Regions from separate parts of the Homo sapiens genome. Here region 2 is linked to region 1. Evidence: fine-mapped expression QTL. A gene starts in region 1. The other region holds a variant in brackets. All regions are shown on one strand. Distances are from middle to middle. Region 1 holds the start of LINC02343 (long intergenic non-protein coding RNA 2343). Region 2 overlaps LINC02343 (long intergenic non-protein coding RNA 2343).

Evidence for each region.
Region 2: its variant is fine-mapped to the expression of LINC02343 in stomach (GTEx, PIP 0.93).

Annotation. Positions count from the first base shown.
Region 1 is chr13:34,343,228-34,354,446 of GRCh38, forward strand. LINC02343 (long intergenic non-protein coding RNA 2343) reads left to right here and starts at 4,816. Exons shown (of 4, transcript NR_146542.1): 1 at 4,816-4,897.
Region 2 is chr13:34,537,065-34,548,283 of GRCh38, forward strand. The region is part of intron 2 of LINC02343 (long intergenic non-protein coding RNA 2343); the gene reads left to right. All of the region lies in intron 1 of LINC00457 (long intergenic non-protein coding RNA 457), which reads right to left. Among named protein-coding and RNA genes, the nearest start is that of LINC00457, 98 kb to the right of the region's middle. The variant TTC/T (reference allele first, on the strand shown) is at 5,378.

The DNA of each region.
Region 1 (11,219 bases):
TAATTCCCTAAGCAGCAAAGGTTTGTAGAGGGCTTTCTGTGTGCCAAAAACTATGAAAGACTGTTCTTTGGACTCAGGAGCTTATAAAGGTGTAGATGAGACAAAGTATTATGACAACATATATGAAATATCATAAAGCATACATGAAACATTAGGAAAGAGTATATTGAATCATGTGCTCAATTATGTGATTCAAATCAAATGCTATAGAATAGAGATAGTGTGAGAATGACATGGCCAGCACATAATTAGAGGAGCAGCAGGTCCTTTGAAATCAGTTCTAGGTTTAAGTTCTGCCTCTGCACATTAACTTTCACTGTAAGCAAGCTTTAAAAGACCTCTCTATGCCTCAGCTTCCTTATCAGTAGAGATGATTCATCTATTCTATTGACTTGCCAATTCTGCGCCCTCCAAAGTTTTCTTCCATGCAATGTTGGCATCAGACAGAGTAGGTGAGGCAATATGAATACATACATACTTAATTTGTTTATAATGCTTATGGTAAAATCAGAGGAAGATGCACATTCTGTCTCCCAAAGAGGTTGGGCTCAGCCCAACTCCAATATACAAAATCTATAGTCACTCCCTTCAAAATCTGCTATTTTGTCTGTCATTCAAACTCCTCCCACACCCAAGTCTCAGTCTTCCCCAGTGGTGGAATGAATGTGATAGCATGTTATTCCTTGTTGATTACTATTTATTTTTCACTTTAAAGTGTAAAATTATGACCACGATACATAACCAATCAAGTGAACACTGGTGAAGATTTTTCCAGGATAAGAAGCAATAAGTACAAAGCTCTGAGGCAGAAAAAACAGGGATATGTTCAAGATAGAGAGAAAAGGGGTTGGTAAAGCTGGGACATAGTGAGTGAGGGGGACAGTGATGGGGGCAGATCTGATGGGCAGGCAGCCATCAGATCACAAAGGCTAAGTTAGGAGGTATGTGTTTCTTCCAAGAGCAAAGCAAAGCCATTGTAGGCTTAAGGTAGTGAGGTGATGTGATTAGATTCATGATTCAAGGCACATTCTTATGCTGGATCTTTATAAAGGAACCAGAAAAAAAGCATGAGACAAATCAGGAGATTATTTCCATATTCCAAGCTGGAGATGATGGTGCTTAAGCTAAAGTTATTTGAACAAAAAGGAAGAACTTGAGATATATTAAATATGGATTTCTAACAAGCATGACAGATTTAAGGAACAGAATAGCCAGTGTAGCTGGGGAAGTGAAAAGAGTGATGGGAAGGTGAGGTCTGAGAGGTAAGCAAGAATCACATCAAAGAAGCCAACTTAAGGAACTTGCTGCCAATAATTTGGGATAATTTGTTGTCAAATTGAGGGAGGGGCAGGCAGGCAACGGGAAAGAGATAAACTAAAGATGACTCATTTCTAAGTTTGAGGTCAGAGCAAATTAGTAACTGGTTTTACCGTTTACTGAGATGGGCAACTCCTAGGGAAGAATCATTGTTGAAAGTTGAAATTTGGAGTTTTGTGGTAGGCATGAGATAATAATAGTAGCTACTTTGTGTGATTGTTGGGCCAACTAAATGAGCAAATGCAAATAAAGAGCTTCCCCCAACAACTTTGTGCATAATAAGAACTCAAAAATATTGATTGTTACTTTCCTTATCAACATTATTATTCACAAAACTATCTTTGTCAACAGAAAAGTTCCCGAAAGGGGCAGCCTCATTTTTTCCATGAGCTCCCTATCCCGTCACTTGTGGACACCAACAGTGTATGATGCATTCGGTGAAAAAACAAACAAAAAAAGTGTCTGGTTGGCTTCTCTCTCATGCACATGCAATCAACTACTTTTTGAATGGAAAGGAAGTGAAGCAGAAGTAAATGAAATTTACAAAGCCCCTATGCATCTGATTTTATTTTCCATGAAGATTAAGTTTTTCCCAGACGGATTACATTCCTTCCATCATTAGTTAAGCCCATCTTAGTAAAAATTCTATTCAGGAAAATATCTGAGAAAAGCAGTCAATTTGGTTATGCAAAGAGCTTTGCTTTATATAAAATCAGAGTATCTGTTTAAAAGAAATTACAGATGGAAGTGGAGAGTTAGAAATTTCCCACCTCCCTCCACATCTGCCCTCATATCTGCCCCCACCACTACCTCTAGATAATAAACAGTCACCCTCTCGACACATTCATATGCTGAAAAAGGAGCATCGACATAGAAAATAATTGCCAAGCAGAACACAGAGCTTTCGTTTGCCCTCAGGATATAAAATGCACCAGGACACCTTCTGTGAGATGGCTGAGGGGAAGTAATTATTTAGATCCACACTCTTTATCAACATCCCTGAAGCAGAAAGCAAAATGAATAACCAGTAAATAGATGTCACTCCCAGACAATGAGCCTCTAAAAATAAAAGCTAAAAGGGCAAACATCTGTCTTGAAGTTGGTCTTGGATTTTCCTGGCAGAGGGTAGGCAGAGGTGAATGTCGTTGGCCATTCTCATGAAGATCCAGGAAGAAAGGAAAAACTAGAGAAACGCTGCTGCAACATTCTAAAAGCTAATGGCTCTTCAGAATACCTGCATACTGCATGAGACCTCCCAGACTTTCCCTGGATGACGGTCATTTGGTCATCCATCTGGGTGTGTCAGATGAATTTTTCAGGATGATTCTAGTGCATCTGAAATCGTAGGTCTTCATATGCTTGACACAGGCTGATCATTTGTCTTCCTGCAAGAAGTTAAATTTATCATTTTTAATTGACAAGAAAACTCTGAATTCAGTCAAAGCCAAATGTGAGAAGGACTGAGAGTCATTGAAAATGCTACTAGGAAAGGTCTGTTTCCCAAAAGGGCATTTTGCCCTTAAGGAAGCACAAATGAGGTAGGCGTATTTGGGAATGTTTGTTTCTTTACACAAATGCACATTTTTTCTCATATCACCTGTGCATCATGTGAAGTGACATTTCCTCTGGTAATTACGCATTTTCTTTCAGCAGCAGAGGAAATTTTCATGTGAAAGGCACATAACTGTCAACCCATGAAGTAGTGCTTTTTAGGAAACTTAATCCCGGATGCCCAGAGCCTGAATTTTGTTCCTGAGGGTCATATGAAGGTCAACAAGAACATATCTTTTTCTTTAGATAAGAATGCATATCTCAAGCATAGGAGTCCATAAAAAACTAACATGAAATCTTAAAAGTTCCAAACCACAAATATCCCAACACTTAAACCTAGGGCATCAAACTAACCAGTAGCAAAAGGAAATAAGGTTGAAAACAGCCCCAGGAGGCCATTCATCCACAGCTGCACGATGATGCTCTGCAAGTCATGGCAACAACAGGGCAAGAAGGGATGGAGATAATTTTCATATTTGAGATATAGGATTGAATATACACATGTGAATAAAGACAAAGATGTAGGATTGGATACAGTAAGATGCAGTGGAGTTTAAGCAAAGAAAATGCATTCAGAAACCTTTTTTTTTAACTAGAGAAAAAATTATTCGTATTAAAGTGTTAACCTGGGTTAAGTCTTTTTCCAGAGAGCTAACTATGCCAATCTTCTTACTTATAATCACACCAATCTGCTGCAATAAAATCTCCAGAATGCCTGCTTGTGTATTGTTCAGTTGAGAGGAATGTGTTATGCACGCTTTAGTACTGAAGCTGTTTAAAGCTGTAAATAGTTTTATGCTCATATTATCACTTTTAAGAAGAAGAAGAAAAAGATCAAGTAGGCTCTTATCACCTCTCTGTGGTGATCCTCTCCCAAAGTTTTGTACACGCAACTCTTCTCTGAAGTCACAGAACTTGATCCCACGTTCCTCCTTTTCAGCAAAATGACCTGTGACCATAAATGATATCAGGAATCTAACAAAAGAGATACAAAAATGACAGCCATGACATGTCCTCTAGACTCTCCCTGGCCAGTGATGGTCACTGTCTAGGCTCTGATTCAGAGCCTGGGTGCATGGAAGGAAATCACACAATTCCAGGATCTCACAATTTTCTCAAAGACTTTCCAGTCCACAGGGCCAGTGTCAGGGTAGACAGAGGCAAAGATATGCATCCTCCATGAGCATGTATACCCTCTCATTGTAAATTATGGCCAAGTGAGAGTCATTCAGGGAGACACAGGGGAAAGGGACTCTACATCCTTGCTCCTGTAGACCAACATGAGCTCTCTGAGGAGCAGGGGATGGGAGCTGCTGTGTTATTTTACAGGTTAAGTCACATGTCACGTGTCCTTGCTCTGTCCCCTGTTAACAGCAAAGATCCTGTCAAATGCATTCAGTAAGGGATTAGTAAACTAGAGCTGACACACATAGTTCTGGACCCAGAGGGTCTTTGATAGAACCCTGTAGTTCATTCATCTACCTTTAGGAAGAGCTGTGGGGATATGACCTGCGTTGTTTTCTTAAAATAAGGAAATAGGGACATGTGGGAGGAGGGAGAGGAGCAGAAAAGATAACGATTGGGTACTGGGCTTAATACCCAGGTGATGAAATAATCCGTATGACAAACCCCCATGATGTGTTTATCTATGTAATAAATTTTCACGTGTACCCCCAAACCTAAAATAAAAGTTAAAAAGTATACAAATAAGGGAAGTATCTTCAGGATGTGTCTGTGGCTTTTAATCCATGTGCTTTCTGTTTTGTAAGAACTAATTGTGCTGAAGTCCAGCTCTGTGACACTGAAGGTCACCAGTTCCCTTGCTGGCTTCGACTGAATGATTCCCCTGTGAAGTCCCTTGTTTACTGTATTTGTAATTAGCCACCAAGAACTTGAGTAACCGGTTTCCGAGGAGAACATATATCCTGAATCAGTTCCTGGACATTTGTTTGAGGTCTTGTAAGGGAAACTGAAGGGAATTGTGTATTGAACAGGATGGCTTAGACCTGCTCAACTTCTGAGAATTGAGGTAAGTGCCTGACGTCAGCATGATTTCTGTTTAGCAGAAGTGGGAGTTTTAATGAAACCGATCTTTGAGCTAACGAATTTAAATGACTGAACTAAGGTGTCACTTTCAAAAGTATATATTTGAATCCATATGTTTTTTGTGGCTGTGCACATCACTGCTAGAAATTTGCGTTTAACTCGGGTAATATTTGCAGACTGACAGGGGGCAGATGGGAGCCAGCTGCTAAGTGAGAGAATCCACCTGCTTGCCAGTTGGAGTGTGATAGGAAGCAAACGGCCCTGATAGAGACTCTATTTCTAGGCACACTGACAGAGCATTCAGCGAAGTGTCACCACACTTTGCTTCATCTAGATCATCAGGGCAAACCTGAAACTCTATCAGGAGAGGGACCAGACTCTTCCAAGAAGATGGAGGGAACCAGGGACACAGAGCATCCTCCCTACTCAGGTCCCTATTGCTATGGTAAAGGAGGAGAAGAAAGACAGATGAGGTGAGGAGGCTATTCCAGAAACTGCGTGTGAAATGGGTGGTAAGACATTGCCTTGAGGCATTGCTGAAACAATCAGACTTTCGAGTCTAGTCTGAAGGACATAAGACCAGGGAGACCTTGATATGCAGAGATGCTACCCAAGCTTGGAACCCTTCCAGAGAGAGCCCCCCAAACTTTGTAGAATGTACCTAGCAAGTCAAAGCCTCCTTTGTGCCAAATATCTGTGTTCCTGCTCTCTACTTCTCTACTTTCTACTCCACAGCAAAATGTCCAAGAAAATTCGATCTTCCTCTTTGCTCTCCAACCCTATTCCTAGCCTTCAGTTTTGTTTTGTTTTTTTTTGTTTGTTTGTTTGTTTCTGTTTATCAAAGGAGTGGAATGCATCAGGCAAGAAAGTACCTACCTGCTACACCTTATACATTTTCTTCCTGCTTAGCTCAAACCTGTGAGTGCTGTAGCCAGTGAGGTACATTTCATTAAATGGATGAACCTAGACTTGGGGTATGTGGCAATCAACACACAATACTGAAAAATCTGAGTATGGAACAATCACCTGAGAAAACAGGGTAGGACGGCTTAACCCTTGTGTTCATGCTTGCTCACCCAGGACTTCAAACATCCCTGTGCCTCACTGGGCAAGCCCATGGCCAGGGCAAAGGATATGGAGAGGTGCCCCAATGGGAATGTATACCCTAGAGTGTTGTGAATGCTGGGTGCTGAGGCACCTCAAGGACTGTTTTATCCTAAGCCAGAAGAGGCTCTTTCCTGGAATGCCCAGTAAAGTTCTTCCTTGAGTTTGGTCAAAAACCATGCATTCCAAGCAAGCTGCACTCTGAAAGTCAAGTGTGGTTTTATTGCACTTACTGATTTCCAGTGTGACTCATTTGTCTCAGCAACTGGACATCTGTGTCCACAAAATGGAGGGCACCCAGCCAAGTGTGGGGATGTTCTGATGAAGTTTGGAATTTGTGCAACACATTTTTCATGCTCAGCTGAATTATTGGTAGAAAGCAAGATGCTGCCTAATGAACATCCCAGAAAGCACAGGATCCACTTTCCTGGGATAGTAAGTGACTAAGCATTTTACTCTTGCCTGTTATTATAGCTGAAAAGATACAGAGATGATATTGTATAAGGTGCATTAGCATCTTACCGTTGAATTGCCTTTTTATTTTAACGCTTCCAGAGCCTCTTCGTCTACTTTCTCATTGTGCCTTGACAACTTTCTTGTGAGCAAGGAAGTCTGGTATTACATAACTTTCAATGGAGAAAAATCACATACAAATGGGTTTAGACTTGCTTTAGGGTCCCATTACTTCAGTTGGTCTGTGTATCAGAGACATCTTGGCAGAAAATTGGGACAAGTTAAGGCTAATAAATGGAATTATTACAAAGTCATGAGCAAGGGGTAGGAAAATCACAGGAGATAGTGCAAGAGACCAGAGCTGGTAAAGGCAGTTCCTGTTTCCATCCTAGGCCTTGCGGGGGAAAGAAGAGGTAGCAGATACCCAAGGGGCTGTCATAGAAGTGTGTATTTCAGTTAAGGGGTGCAACCAGCCTAAAGTAACCCTTGTAAAGAACCCAGGGGAATAAATACCCAACCTAACTTTCCTTCATACCCCTTCTAGCCTGCTGCTTGTGTTCCCCTCCCCTGACGGCTATTCCTATCACCACCACCACTGACCAAACGCAAATGAAAGCCAGAAGGCAAGAAAGCCTATTAATGGAGTTCAAAGAATGGAGCCACTGGGGAGCATTTCTAGCTGTAGAGTCAGCCTCAGAAATAGTCAGACCTTCTGGTTGCCATTTCATCTGTCATTCATTGTTATCACCTGGATAACTAAAGATAGGCACATTATAAAGAATCCACTCCACGTTTGCTGGTGACTAAATTCCCTGGAGTAATCCTGGCAAAGGTGTGTTTCTGCCTTCAATTCAATGCAGTTCAGAAAGCATGTTTGAGTTCTGTAAAGTGAGCTACATGGTGTTTAAATTCTTATGAAAGATGTGCCAATTAATGCGATGCTGCATTTTCTTACTATTCCCCAAAATATTTACTATGCCCGATCGCATCCCCAACACACAGACACATGCACGCATACACATACACATGCATATGCATACAAATATACACACACAAACATGTAGGCACACAGAAGCATGTGCACATGGGCACAGGCACACAGAGGCACTCACACACATGCACACATGCACATGCATGAAGGCTTGGAATGAAGCACAGCTTGTGTTTCTGCCTCAGATGCCACAAAATTAATTTTAGTTGGAAAACTCCTTGACAGACTTCCAGGAAAATACCACTCAGAACAGCAGAGCTCCTGTTAACATCTGTCTGCTGTTTTCTCAGAGACATCCAATGCCAATCTTTAAGTTTCTGATTCTCAAAGCTTCCTCTGAAATTAGTCACCTTGATGAAGCTCATGATGATATAGAAGCAGCTATTACTAAAAGGAATTGCTACATTTTTGGTGGTGGTGGTGGTGGTGAAGAAGTAAATAAGTACATGGAAGAATAGATAGATGAGTAGATGGATGGTTGGATGGATGGATGGATGGATGGATGGATGCAGGGATAATGGATTGAGGAATGAGTAGAGGGATGATGGATAAATGGATGAGTGGAGGGATGATGAACTGATGGATGAGTAGAGGGATGATGGATGAATGGATGGGTGGATGGATGGATATGTGGATAGACGGATGGGTAGATAAAAGGATGTATGGATGAGTGGAGTGATCGATGGAGGGATGGATTAATGGGTGAATGGATTAGCGGAGGGATGATGGATTGATGAATGAGTAGAGGGATGATGGATGGATGGATGGTTGGATGAATGGAGGGATGGATGGATGGATAAGTGGAAAGTATGTATGGATGAGTGAGTGTGGATGGATGGATGAATGGGTGGATAGATGGAGAATTTTAGAAAGAAGTCGATATTTTTTTTCTTGAGACAGAGTCTTGCTTTGTTGCCTAGGCTGGAGTGCAGTGGCACGATCTCGGCTCACTGCAACCTCCCCCTCCCGGATTCCTCCTTCCTCAGCCTCCTGAGTAGCTGGGATTACAGGCAGGTGCAACCACGCCCAGCTAATTTTTTTATTTTTAATAGAGACCCGGTTTCACCATGTTTGTCAGGCTGGTCTCGAACTCCTGACCTCCTGATACACCCTCCTCGGCCTCTCAAAGTGCTGGGATTACAAGTGTGAGCCATCATACCCAGCCAAAGGAAGACAATTCTATAACAATTAATAAGGGGGAAGAATCTACCTAACACTCACCTCATTATTCTTGGTGAAAAGAAGCCTGAAGCAAAGGCATCTCTGTCTATCACCATTGCATTCAGAGAGGGTATATATCACAGGAGTTCAGAACACAGGCTCTAGATTCAGAGTCTTGGATTTGAATCCTGGACTTAACAACACTTACTAGCTGTGGGACCTAATCTGTGCCTCTGTAATGCTGTCTCTCTGCAAGGAATTGCTTATCCCACTGCATAGCTGGCTTGATCTGCTAGTGATAACAGGAATGCAATGGAAAGGACAATTACCTTAGACCCTGCAGGGATGTCCAAGGGAGAGAATACAGTCATTTGTTTTTAGTTTCTGTTTCTGGTTGGGCCAGTAAAGCCCCTTCCTCATCCCTCTTTTTCACTTATTACTAGCGACAGAAACTAAAAATCATGGCTTCAGACTCTAAAAGCCTAAACAAAACAAAACAGAACAACAACAACAACAAAATAAGGCAGGTTGGACAAGCTTGCTGGTATTACAGGGATGAAGGTTACCCCATAACACCCAAGACATAGTTCTCTGAGAAAATTTTAAAAATGAAATCATGCCCAGACACAAATTTCTCAGAAAAAAAATTGATATAGGAATTACAGCCAAATATCCATGACTGGTTTGGTTAGAGAATAAAATAATCTTTAAAATAATTTTATCACTTATGAATTATATTCATATATTTTATATATATATATATATGAGGAAGCAAATTGTATTTAGAACTTAGAAGTTAGAAACCCAGCTCAGGCATTGCCTGACCTTGAGCAATTTCCTTAACTTCTCTAAGCCTAATTGCAGGTGGTACAAACTGGTTTTGCTGTGGCCAAAACTGTCCAGCAGATTTGATTCCTTTGGGCCACAAATTCTTTTAAGCACATGTGAACTATGATTTTAAAGTTGGGAAATTCCACCAAAGCATCTCAATTTCTAAGTTTTTGGAAAATTTAAAAAGTCCAGCAACAGTGGACCCATATTCCCACACAGCACCCGTTGGGTGAAGCTGAGTCAGGGCTGCCCCCTTTAGACTGGGCCACGTCTCCATAACCCCTTCCACTTTCTACTGGTTACTGCCTACTTTCTCTTCAGTGTTACCTGCTGGCTCTCAAAGCCCTTGGAGTTGTAATCGCTGCTCTCATATGTAAAAAGAAAAATAATGTCTGAGCTGGGGTTGTTGTGAAAAATAAATAAAATCAAGTAAGTGAAGGGCCCAACACATGTATGACACACCATAGCAATGGAATACGAGTCATCTCCTTTCTCTCCCCTGGTCATGTATTCATTCAGCAAATGCTAAGTGTTCACTATATGCCAGATAATGTGCTAAGTGCTAGAAATGAAAACATACATATGACACGGAGCCTGCCCGTGCAAAAGGTTGCATTCCTGTGAAGGGAGACAGACTTATAAACAAAGTATAAGACCCATCTGAGCAGGCTACTCCATCTTTCCAACCTGTGATGCTTCCTGGAGGGCATCTAAAAGAGTAAAGAGAATTTGGAGGAGTATGTAAATGATTCCTTTAAAAATACTGCTCAAGGTAATGAGGCATGCTCTAACCTGGGATAAGGGAGTCTCCTTAGCGGGTTTTCCAAATCTATTCATTTTACCAAATTAGACACGTTCTTGTAAATTTCATTTACATTTGATACTAGAATGGGCAATTATAGGTCTTACATGGCAAGATCAGGGCACCTTGAAGGAACACCTGGATCCTACTTCACTGACTGCAAAGAGATTAAAATAAAACCTTGTCACCCTAGTCAGATGGAGGCAATGAAGAGAAAATGGAATCATAAAAGCCCAGAATATTAATTCCACCTCAGTCTTCCTTTTAATATCAAGCATCCCTGGATTTGGGTTTGCAGAAATTCACATTGCTGTGTCACATAAGCTAGAATCTCCCAGAGGGGCACAGAGCGCTTTGGGGCGCATTCATTATACATCAGCATTACACAATGCATTGTACAGCGTCAGTGCCAAAGTCATAATATGCCCTGTGCTCCACTCCCTCCCCTATTTCTCTATCCTAAGGCTGACTTTAGCCTACTCATCACCATGGCTATTATTCTTCTTTATTCTTCTCAAAATCTGCGATTTCATCATTTTACCCTTTTCTACAGGCTTCTGAGATCAGTTTGTTCATTCGTATAGTTGGCCCCAGTAACAAAGCTAAAACTTCTATATTCACCGGATTTCCAGAATGTGAATGTTGGGTCTTAAACCTTATGGTCAAATAATATATTTTTTTATTTTAAAAAATCATTGCAGTATAGAAGAAAAAATACATGGCTTTGAGGCCAAAGAGATCCAAGTCCAAATCCTTGCTTTCCCAGTTATTAGCTCAGTGACAAAGGACCCAGCCTCTCTGAGCAGTTTTCCCAATTGTTATACAATTTATGGTAAAAATCATGAGTAAATTGCATGAGATCACCAGAAGTCATAACACATAGCAGGCACTCATCAGGATACTTGTCCATCATCACAAAATAAGGTGTGATTATTGGTTTTACATATAGTAGCTTACCCTCAT
Region 2 (11,219 bases), 190 kb after region 1:
ACCAAGAGGAACCACTAATAGTGTTTGAGTCAAATGGCAAAATGCAGAAATGTCATGACAGCTGAAGAGTCTAAAGAACTCATCTTCTGGCTGGATGCGGTGGCTCACGCCTGTAATCTCAGCACTTTGGGAGGCCGAGGGGGGCGGATCACGAGATCAGTAGATTGAGACCATCCTGGCTAACATGGTGAAACTTTGTCTCTACCAAAAATACAAACAAAAAAAAAATAGCTGGGTGTGGTGGCGGGCGCCTGTAGTCCCAGCTACTCAGGAGGCTGAGGCAGGAGAATAGTGTGAACCCAGGAGGCGGAGCTTGCAGTGAGCCGAGATCACGCCACTGCACTCCAGGCTCAAAGACAGAATGAGACTCTGCCTCAAAAAAAAAAAAAACTTATCTTCTACAATAGTCTTTATTTTCCATTAGATCCCCTACATATTTCCCAGTCACTTCCCCTATAATTTATGATCCTTTGAAGCCCAAGCACTGTTTCCTAAATCTAATCATTTCTTTGTTTCACTTCTTAGCTTGGTGCAAAAGTAATTGCAATTTTTTGCCATTGAAAGTAATGGCAAAAACCAACTGGGCACAATGGCTCCTGCCTGTAATCCCAGCACTTTGGGAGGCCAAGGTGGGCCAATTACCTGAGGTCAGGAGTTCAAGACTAGCTTGGCCAACATGGTGAAACCCCAACTCCACTAAAAATTCAAAAATTAGCCAGATGTGTTGGCACACACCTGTAATCCCAGCTACTTGGGAGACTGAGGCAGGAGAATCACTTGAACCCAGGAGGCAGAGGTTGCGGTGAGCCAAGATTGCACCATTGCACTCCAGCCTGGGGAACAGAGTGAGACTGCCTCTCAAAAAAAAAAAAGAAAAGAAAAAGAAAAAAAAAAAAGGCAAAACCGCAATTATTTTTGCACCAACCTAATATTTTCTGTGATCTCTGTGCCAATAAATATTAACAAAACCTGCGTGTCTTTTCTTCTGTAGTTTAATTTGCAGGCCCCCAAGCACTTAGCATAAGCAAGTAGACAAAAATTTTTTCCTCCCCAACACCCAACATTCTTTTTTTTTTTTTTTTTGAGATTGAGTCTCACTCTGTCACCCAGACTGGAGTGCAGTGGAGCAATTTTGGCTCACTGGAACCTCCACCTCCTGGGTTCAGGCGATTCTCCTGCCTCAGCCTCCCAAGTAGCTGGGACTACAGGCGAATACCACCACGCCCAGCTCATTTTTGTATTTTTAGTACAGACAGGGTTTCACCATGTTGGTCAGGGTGGTCTTGAACTCCTGACCTCGTGATCCACCCGCCAGGGCTTCCCAAAGTGCTGGGATTACAGGTGTGAGCCACCGCGCCCAGCTTCAACATGCATTTTAACCATGAGAAAATCAAGGAAAACCCAATTTATCTGACTTCAAATTTCTTGCCCTTTCAATGAAGCTCCCTCTAGATTACACTTTTTTGCAGAGGTAAGAAATGGTTTCAGAGAATGGATTCCCCTGAAGTCACAGGAGACAAAGTTTTACCAGGCTGGGTAGGAGGGAAGGGGGTGGAAAACCAGGAAGTCTCTGACTCTGGCAGGATTATTCTAAAGCAATTTGCCACATTGCTTTACAGTAATTTCTCCACAGATAAAATCCCTAAGGGTCAAAAAAATTGGCTGACAGGGAGATGAATGGATCTTCTCATTAACAACAACAACAAAAAAATTCTCTTAATTGTGCCCTATCCCTGAGCTTTTTCATACACACCCAACTGGAAATATCATGTGTTCGACTCTTGATCAGCTTGATATAAAGTAATATTAAAGCAGGGACTCATAATGAAACATGTTAAATTGCTACCCTGTCCTTCTATCTCCCCCTTGCCAAAAAAAAAAGAAAAACTTAAATTAAACTATGAAGGAATTGATGACTAGTGATAGTCTCTACAGAACAGTATGGGAATCAATTAAAACAGAAGCTAAAACATGCCTCAGGATGTAATTGATAACATGATGAGACAGAGAAAAAAACTGTTAAGTGTGAAGTTAAATTCAAAACATCTTACTTAGAGAAAATGCAAAGGCTTCTTTTATCCCACAGGACCAATCTCAAGAACTATTAGTTTCTCAGGAAGCAAGAATCAGAGAATAATTGTTGCTGTTTGTTTATTCTTGACAGTTTCAAAGGACAATCTCTCTTGGGGGAAAATTTCTGTTTTCAACTTAAAAGTTCATTCTAAACCCAAGACCATTCCAGGAAAGCTTTTTGGCTCTTTCTTGAACTTTGGAAATAAATTTTGCACAATTTTTCGTAATCCATTTATTTAGTTGCTTCAATTATCCCTTCTCAAATTCAGAGGTTTAGAAACATCACTGGATAGGGAACATATTCAGAAAAAAAAAAATCAGTATTACAAAGACTAGACGCCAGTCCAGTGAGAAAAAGAAAAAAAGGCCAGGATTATGTCCATGGTGGTCTCCGAATTGCATAATTGCCATTTTCAGTGTTGAGGCCTACTGATTGTGGATGTGATGTTTCAATATTTCATAAAATGTTAAAATGCTTTTACTTGAGTTATAGCTCAGTCATTTTGGCACTTAGGTCTGGTTAAGCGCTGGTTGCCAGATTTTCTTAGTGCGTTATCCACTAAGCCACAACCACTGCTAAGAAAACCTTAATTCCTATTAAAATGTTAAAACTTGGTAAGAAAGATTTGGTTTGAGTTTGGACAGATAGAAGATGTGAGCGTTCTCGCTCTCCCTCTCCCTCTCCCTCTCCCTCTCCCTCTCCCTCTCCCTCTCCGTCTCCCTCTCCCTCTCCCCACAGTCTCCCTCTCATGTGGAGCCGAAGCTGGACTGTACTGCTGCCATCTCGGCTCACTGCAACCTCCCTGCCTGATTCTCCTGCCTCAGCCTGCCGAGTGCCTGCGATTGCAGGCACGCGCCGCCACGCCTGACTGGTTTTGGTGGAGACGGGGTTTCACTGTGTTGGCCGGGCCGGTCTCCAGCCCCTAACCGCGAGTGATCCGCCAGCCTCGGCCTCCCGAGGTGCCGGGATTGCAGACGGAGTCTCGTTCACTCAGTGCTCAATGGTGCCCAGGCTGGAGTGCAGTGGCGTGATCTCGGCTCACTACAACCTACACCTCCCAGCCGCCTGCCTTGGCCTCCCAAAGTGCCGAGATTGCAGCCTCTGCCCGGCCGCCACCCCGTCTGGGAAGTGAGGAGTGTCTCTGCCTGGCCGCCCATGTCTGGGATGTGAGGAGCCCCTCTGCCTGGCTGCCCAGTCTGGAAAGTGAGGAGCGTCTCCGCCCGGCCGCCATCCCATCTAGGAAGTGAGGAGCGCCTCTTCCCAGCCGCCATCACATCTAGGAAGTGAGGAGCGTCTCTGCCCGGCCGCCCATCGTCTGAGATGTGGGGAGCGCCTCTGCCCCGCCGCCCCATCTGGGATGTGAGGAGCGCCTCTGCCCGGCCGAGACCCCGTCTGGGAGGTGAGGAGCGTCTCTGCCCGGCCGCCCCGTCTGAGAAGTGAGGAGACCCTCTGCCTGGCAACCACCCCGTCTGAGAAGTGAGGAGCCCCTCCGCCCGGCAGCCGCCCCGTCTGAGAAGTGTGGAGCCTCTCCGCCCGGCAGCCACCCCATCTGGGAAGTGAGGAGCGTCTCCGCCCGGCAGCCACCCCGTCCGGGAGGGAGGTGGGGGGGGTCAGCCCCCCGCCCGGCCAGCCGCCCCATCCGGGAGGGAGGTGGGGAGTCAGCCCCCCCGCCCGGCCAGCCGTGCCATCCGGGAGGGAGGTGGGGGGGTCAGCCCCCCGCCCAGCCAGCCGCCCTGTCCGGGAGGGAGGTGGGGGGGGTCAGCCCTCCGCCCGGCCAGCCGCCCCGTCTGGGAGGTGAGGGGCGCCTCTGCCCGGCCGCCCCTACTGGGAAGTGAGGAGCCCCTCTGCCCGGCCAGCCACCCGGTCCGGGAGGGAGGTGGGGGGGTCAGCCCCCCCACCCGGCCAGCCGCCCCGTCCGGGAGGGAGGTGGGGGGGTCAGCCCCCCGCCTGGCCAGCCGCCCCATCCGGGAGGGAGGTGGGGGGGTCAGCCCCCCGCCTGGCCAGCCGCCCTGTCCGGGAGGGAGGTGGGGGGGTCAGCCCTCCGCCCGGCCAGCCGCCCCGTCTGGGACGTGAGGGGCGCCTCTGCCCGGCCGCCCCTACTGGGAAGTGAGGAGCCCCTCTGCCCGGCCAGCCGCCCGGTCCGGGAGGGAGGTGGGGGGGGTCAGCCCCCCGCCCGGCCAGCCGCCCCGTCCGGGAGGGAGGTGGGGGGGGTCAGCCCCCCCTGCCCGGCCAGCCGCCCCGTCCGGGAGGTGAGGGGCGCCTCTGCCCGGCCGCCCCTACTGGGAAGTGAGGAGCCCCTCTGCCCGGCCACCACCCCGTCTGGGAGGTGTGCCCAACAGCTCATTGAGAACGGGCCAGGATGACAATGGCGGCTTTGTGGAATGGAAAGGTGGGGAAAAGATTGAGAAATCGGATGGTTGCCGTGTCTGTGTAGAAAGAAGTAGACATGGGAGACTTTTCATTTTGTTCTGCACTAAGAAAAATTCTTCTGCCTTGGGATCCTGTTGATCTGTGACCTTACCCCCAACCCTGTGCTCTCTGAAACATGTGCTGTGTCCACTCATGGTTAAATGGAAAAAAAAAAAAAAAAAGAAAGATTTGGTTTCTGCACAAGAGCACAATCAGCTGTTGTTTCACTTGCAATACTAAAGGCTTAATAATATCTAACATTCAATATTAAAATATAAAATGTATTTGGTACCAACACTATATATCATTTCAATCCTTAAAGAACTTTTCTGAATCATTGGGAATATTTCAGGGAAAATTACTTAGAAAGAACAGATACCTGCATTACATTGCTCTGAAATTAAGGTAGAATTATTGTACCCCATTAAAATTTGTAATCTCTTGTTAATGAAGTTTAAAAAGACAGCACATTTATTGCAAGGGAGCTGAGAGAAAGGAAGTAGTAATTATCAGAATATATGCACCAAATCATTATTCCACCTCATTCCTTATGCATTTAAACTGTCTCTCTCTACCACGAGTCTTTTTAAATAAAAACTGAAGATTTTGATTGCCTACTTAATGAAAACTTAGATGCAGTCCAGTCAGCTAGTTTTAAGAGAAGAAAAATCTTAAATTTTTTTACCATAGCTCCCAGATTAATTAATGACAGAAGGGTTAAAATTTCAAATACACATTTGTCTTGTTAACACATAATTGATCCTAACTCCTCAAAGACAGTTCCTCCTTTTTAATGGCAGGCATCTAGTTTGTAAAACAAGGTAACGTTAGTGAGAAATACAGCATAGAAAGAAGGGTCTATATAGGCTTCAGGGACTTGTCTCTTTCTAAAAT[TTC/T]TTTTTCGTCATAATCAAACAAGCATTCCAGTGTACACTGTCTACCATGCACTTTACAAGCACTATCTTGTTTAAACCTGACAACAATCCTCTGTGGTATGAATTAATATTTTCCTTATTACACGAATGAAAATTTCATGACCCAAAGAAGTTAACTAACTTGTTCGAGGTAATTCTACTGGTAATGGCATACCTTGAATTTGAATCCAAATTCAGTTGACACTTAAGTCTGTGCTTTATCACTGAGCAAACCTGCAGTCATCAAAACATCTGATAAATTATTTCTACAAAGTCAGAAAACTCCACATCAGACAGCCTATTTCACTAACATTTTTTCTTTCACTACTGCTTATAAATGAACCTGCCAGCAAGACCAGGCGAAAGCTTATCGGTTGCTCCGCTTTCAGCAGCATGAGACTCCCGAAACATGTCTATATATTTGAAGTCCTCTATCGGTTCTTTATCACGCCTGTTGCAATTTTATGATTTATGTGAGCAAAAAAGCCCCATATTTCCCTCTGGTTGGCCAGTCAATCCACAGCACCCTCCCCTAAGTCACATCCCTCTCTGAAAAACCACAAACACCTGAAGATATTTTTTTTAGTTGTTTATTTTTCCTTTTAGTTGACACATACTAATAGTGCATATTTATGGGGTAGAGTGTGATGTTTTGATACATGTGTACTTTATGTAATGATCAAATCAGGGTAATTAGCCTATCTATCACCTCAAACACTTGTCATTTCTTTGTCGTGGGGACATCTAAAATCCTTTCCTCTAGCTATAGTCAAGAGCCACATAATAATGACATTTAGTCAAGGATGGACCACATATGACAGTCATCCTATAATATTATAATGGAGCTGAAAAAAATTCCTGTCACCTGGTGAGGTCTTAAAGATCCTGACCCTGTGTAGGCCTAAGCTAATGTATGTGTTTGTGTTTTAGTTATTAAAAGAAAAAAAAAATGTTTAGGCCGTGTGCTGTGGCTCATGCCTGTAATCCTAGCACTTTGGGAGGTCAAGGCAGGTGGATCACTTGAGGTCAGGAGTTCAAGACCAGCCTGGCCAACATGGTGAAACTCCATTTCTACTAAAAATACAAAAATTAGCCGGGGGTGGGGGCGCATGCCTATAATCCCAGCTACCTCAGAGGCTGAGGCAGGAGAATCGCTAGAACCAGGGAGGCAGAGGCTGCAGTGAGGCGAGATCATGCCACTGCACTCCAGCCTGGGCAACAGAGTGAGACTCAGTCTCAAAAAAAAAAAAAAAAAGGTTAAAAAGTAAAATAAAAATTAAAAGTTTTTAAAACAGGAAAAAGCTTATAGAATAACGATATAAAGAAAAAATAGTATTGTAAAACTATTCCATGTCTTTGCATTTTAAGCTGTTATTACAAAAGAGTTAAAAGGTTTTTTTAATGTTTAAAGTTTAAAAAGTTAAAAAGTTACAGTTAGCTAAGGTTAATTTATTATGGAAGAAAGACAAATGTTGTATAAGTTTAGTGCAGTGTTAAGCGAACAGTGTTTATGAAGCCTGCAGTAGTGTAATGACTTAGGCCTTCACGTTCACTCAGCAGTCACTCACTGACTCACCCAGAGCAACTTCTCTCGTCCTGCAAGTGCCATTCGTGGTAACTGCCCTATACAGGTGTACCATTTTAATCTTTTACAACATATTTTTACTGTAACTTTTCTAAGTTTAGCCATGTTTAGGCACATAAATACTTACCATTGTGTTACAATTGCCTACAATATTCAGTATAGTAACATGCTGTACAGGTTTATTGCCTAGGAGCAATAGGTTATACCACCTAGACTTGCATGAGTATACTGTATGAAGTTCACACAATGACAAAATAGCCTAAGAACACATTTCACCGAAGGTATCCTCATCATTATGCAATGCATAATTGTATTTTGAAATATCTTGTACATTATTAATAACTACAGTCACCTAACTGTGCAATAGAACATCAGGACTTATTCCTCCCATCTAACTTTAACTCTGTAGCCACTGACCCATCTCTCACAATATCCCCTCCCCGTGACGCTACCCGGACTCCGGTAACCAGCATTCCACTCCATACTTCAATGAGATCAACTTTTTTAGATTTCATACAAAAGTGAGATAATACAGAAAACAGTATTTTTCCTTCTGTCCTTGGCTTATTTTACTTAACATAATGCCCTCTAGGTTCATTCATGTTGTTGCAAATGATGGGATTCAATTCTTTCTTATGGCTGAGTAGTATTCCATTGTGTATATATGCCACAAGTTTTTAACCATCCATTTGTTGATGGACACTTAGATTGATTCCATATCTTGGCAATTGCAAAGAGTGTTACAATAAACATACGTGTGCAGATATGTGTCTGACACACTGATTTCTTTTTCTCTGGATATGTGGTCAGTAGTAGTATTGCTGGATCAAATGGTAGCTCTATTTTTAATTATTTGAGAAACTTTTGTTGTTGTCCACAATGGCTATCTAACTTGCATTCTCATCAACAGTGTATAAGTTCCTCTTTCACCATATCCTCACCAGCATTTGTCATTTTTTTCTTTTTGACTATATCCATTCTAACTGGAGTGAGATGATATCTCATTGTAGATTTGATTTGTTTGCATTTCCCTGATGATTAACGATGTTGAACATTTTTTCATATAACTGTTGGCCATTTGTATGTCATCTTCTGAAAAATATCAATTCAGATCTTTTGTCTTATTTTTAATCAGATAACTTGGGGGGTTTCTGCTACTGAGTTGTTTGAGTTCCCTATTTATTCTTGATATTAACCCCTTGTCAGTGGTATAGTTTGCAAATATTTTCTCTCATTCTGTGGGTTTTCGCTTCACTCTGCTGTTTGTATCCTTTGCTGTGCAGAAGATTTTTCGTTTGATGTAATCCCATTTGTCTATTTTTGCTTTTGTTGCCTGTGCTTTTAAGGTCTTACACAAAAACACTCTTTGCCCAGACCAATATCCTGGAGCATTTCCCCAATGTTTTCTTCTAGTAGTTTCATAGTTTCACATCCTACATTTACATCTTTAATGCATTTTGAGTTGATTTTAATAAATGGTGAGAGACAGGAGTTTAGTTTCACTCTTCTGCGTGTAGACATCCAGTTTTCCCAGCACCATTTATTGAAGAGACTGCCCTTTCCCTACTCTCTCAGACAAGATAAGGCATTGTCACCTCAATGCTAACTTAGCACTTAGCCCTTACCTTCATCAGAACACAGATCACATTGCGGATGAATCATCTTCATATACCAAGCCTGCCTCTTCATTTTCAATCAATCTGTTGGTGCACACAGGAAATCTATATCTCAGTCTTCTATTTTTCTAAGACTTGTTGAAACAGCTGATTATTATTATTGTAATTTTCTCCTCATGAATCTGTCCAAATTATTTAAAAAAAAACACAGTATCTTTAACTTTGTAAGTGGTAAAAGCAAAAAACTGTAAAAAACACAGTACCTTTAACTTTGTAAGTGGTAAAAGCAAAAAATAGCCACAAGCAATTTATCTCAAAGTCATGAAGAATGTGAAGCCTCTACTTGAGAAAAGGCCCTTGAAAACAAAGAATGCATATTATTGCACAGGGTTGTATTTCAGGCTCCTCTATACCACAAACATTTCAGAAAACTCTAATCATTGAGAAAATGCCAAATTAATATTTAGTCTTTGGAAACTAATTTCGTGAATAATTTCATTATAATAGCCTACAACTATGGTTTTGAATGAGAAACCACTTTGGAAATTAATAGTTTGGTTGCTGAAACAAAAAATTATTAACTCTCCATCATCAATTAAAATAATATATGGTACTATGAAGCACTTCCATACGGAATAAATAATGAATATCTGGAAAACTGTAAATTATATAAATCCTAAAAACCTAAAATAAAAAGGAAATTAAAGACTATTTAGCAAAAGCAAATTTGTTGTTCTCCCTGAAGGGAAAACATAAAGGTCTTTTAGAAGATTAAAGATTCATGTCTGTGCTGCTTTCTGAAAATTCCTATGAATCATTCAGTCTTATTGAAATGCACAATTACTACTTACATAAATAGAACATTCTCATATATATGTATATGTGTGTGATGATTTGTGCATTTTTGTGGCATCAATGTAACTAGAGCTTTAAACTTTGTTATATTAAAAAATAAATCATTTGAGGTCTTTGCCAGCTTCTATTCTGCCTAGAGCTGTGAAAGGAAGGGGTGGAGGAGGACAAAATTAGATATCCCAGGAATAGAAGGCTCATTGGAGTACAATATAATCTGAAAATCCAAGAAACTTGAATCTTATCTGACAATGTTCTCAGGAGATACTCAGGATGGAAAGTAGCTATTTTGTGTCTAAACAATTTCCAAGACTAGAGAAATTGCAAGCTCTCCACAGATGCTACCAGTAAAATGCTTCAGAAGAGAGTTCATTTTTGCCTCAGTAATAATGCCTTAGCACAGTAGGGTTTGTGTATTCATGAGTGGGCGTGGGCATAGTACCCGGGAAAGTGCTTAATTAGTGTCCGTAGCTAAGGAAAGAGAGAAGAAGCCAGCAAGTGCATGCAGGGAATGCCAATCTATGGTCCGTAGCTGAAGCAGCTGGACAACAGGTGACAAGAAATAGTGAGGGAAGCCAGATGAAGTGACTGAGTTGTTTACTAATGATCTCCATTTGTCTTTTGGGAAGATACAGGGTCATATTTCTTATCTACTCAAATAAAATGTTATTTAACACCAGAAGCAATAGTATCTGTGGTGGGCAGAACAATACCCCACTAAAGATGTCTACGTCCTGGGCCAGGTGCAGTGGCTCACGCCTGTAATCCCAGCACTTTGGGAGGCCAAGGTGGGCAGATCACGAGGTCAGGAGTTCGAGACCAGCCTGATCAACATGGTGAAACCCCGTCTCTACTAAAAATACAAAAATTAGCTAGGCATGGTGGCGTGCGTCTATAATCCCAGCTACTCAGGAGGCTGAGGCAGGAGAATCACTTGAACCCGGGAGGCAGACGTTGCAGTGAGCCGAGATTGTGCCACTGCACTCCAGCCTGGGCAAAGGAAAAAAAAAGAAAAAAGCTAGAGGGGTAAGATTCTCCCCATGAGCTTCCAGAAGGAACACCAGCTCTGTTGATTTCACTTTGATTTTAGTCCCAAAAGACCCATTTCAGAATTCTGACTTCCATAACTTTAAGATGATAAATTCCTGTTGTTTTAAGCCACTACGTTTATGGTAATTTGTCAGAGCAATCATAGGAAACTAATACAATGTCTTTCTTTGTTGGTCTTTGTTTCCATTGCTCTATTCAACCTAAATGCACATGTTCTTTCTACATGGAGTGATCTTAGCTAATGCTCTATTTTGTACCGTAAAGGTACAAAACATTTATAAGCAAGTGTCAGAATATGCCCTTATACATCAGGAAATTTCCTTCAACTTCAAAGGCTAGAAATATTTTAAAGTTCTAGATATGGTCATTCAGGAAGTACTGAATGATAATCCCTATGTTGTTGCAATACGTCTTTTATCCCACCTCAACCCTCATCCTCCTAAACATACCTAAGCTAGGAAAAGAACTCAGGCATTGTAACAAATGTAATGTGAGGCCATGGTGATGGGGTGGTATAATAACTCTGGAGAGGACTGGGGTTGTACAAGGTTATATGGAGCCCGTGCCAGAGAACCCAACAGATAGCCAAAGATTTCCATGAGCCTTATGAAGCCAACCAGGAAGCTGTCACAAAGTTCTGCTGCCTAAGCAGCATGAAACACAATGATAACAAAATAGAAGTTCAGCATGTCTTAGGCGACTGACAGAAAAACCAGTGT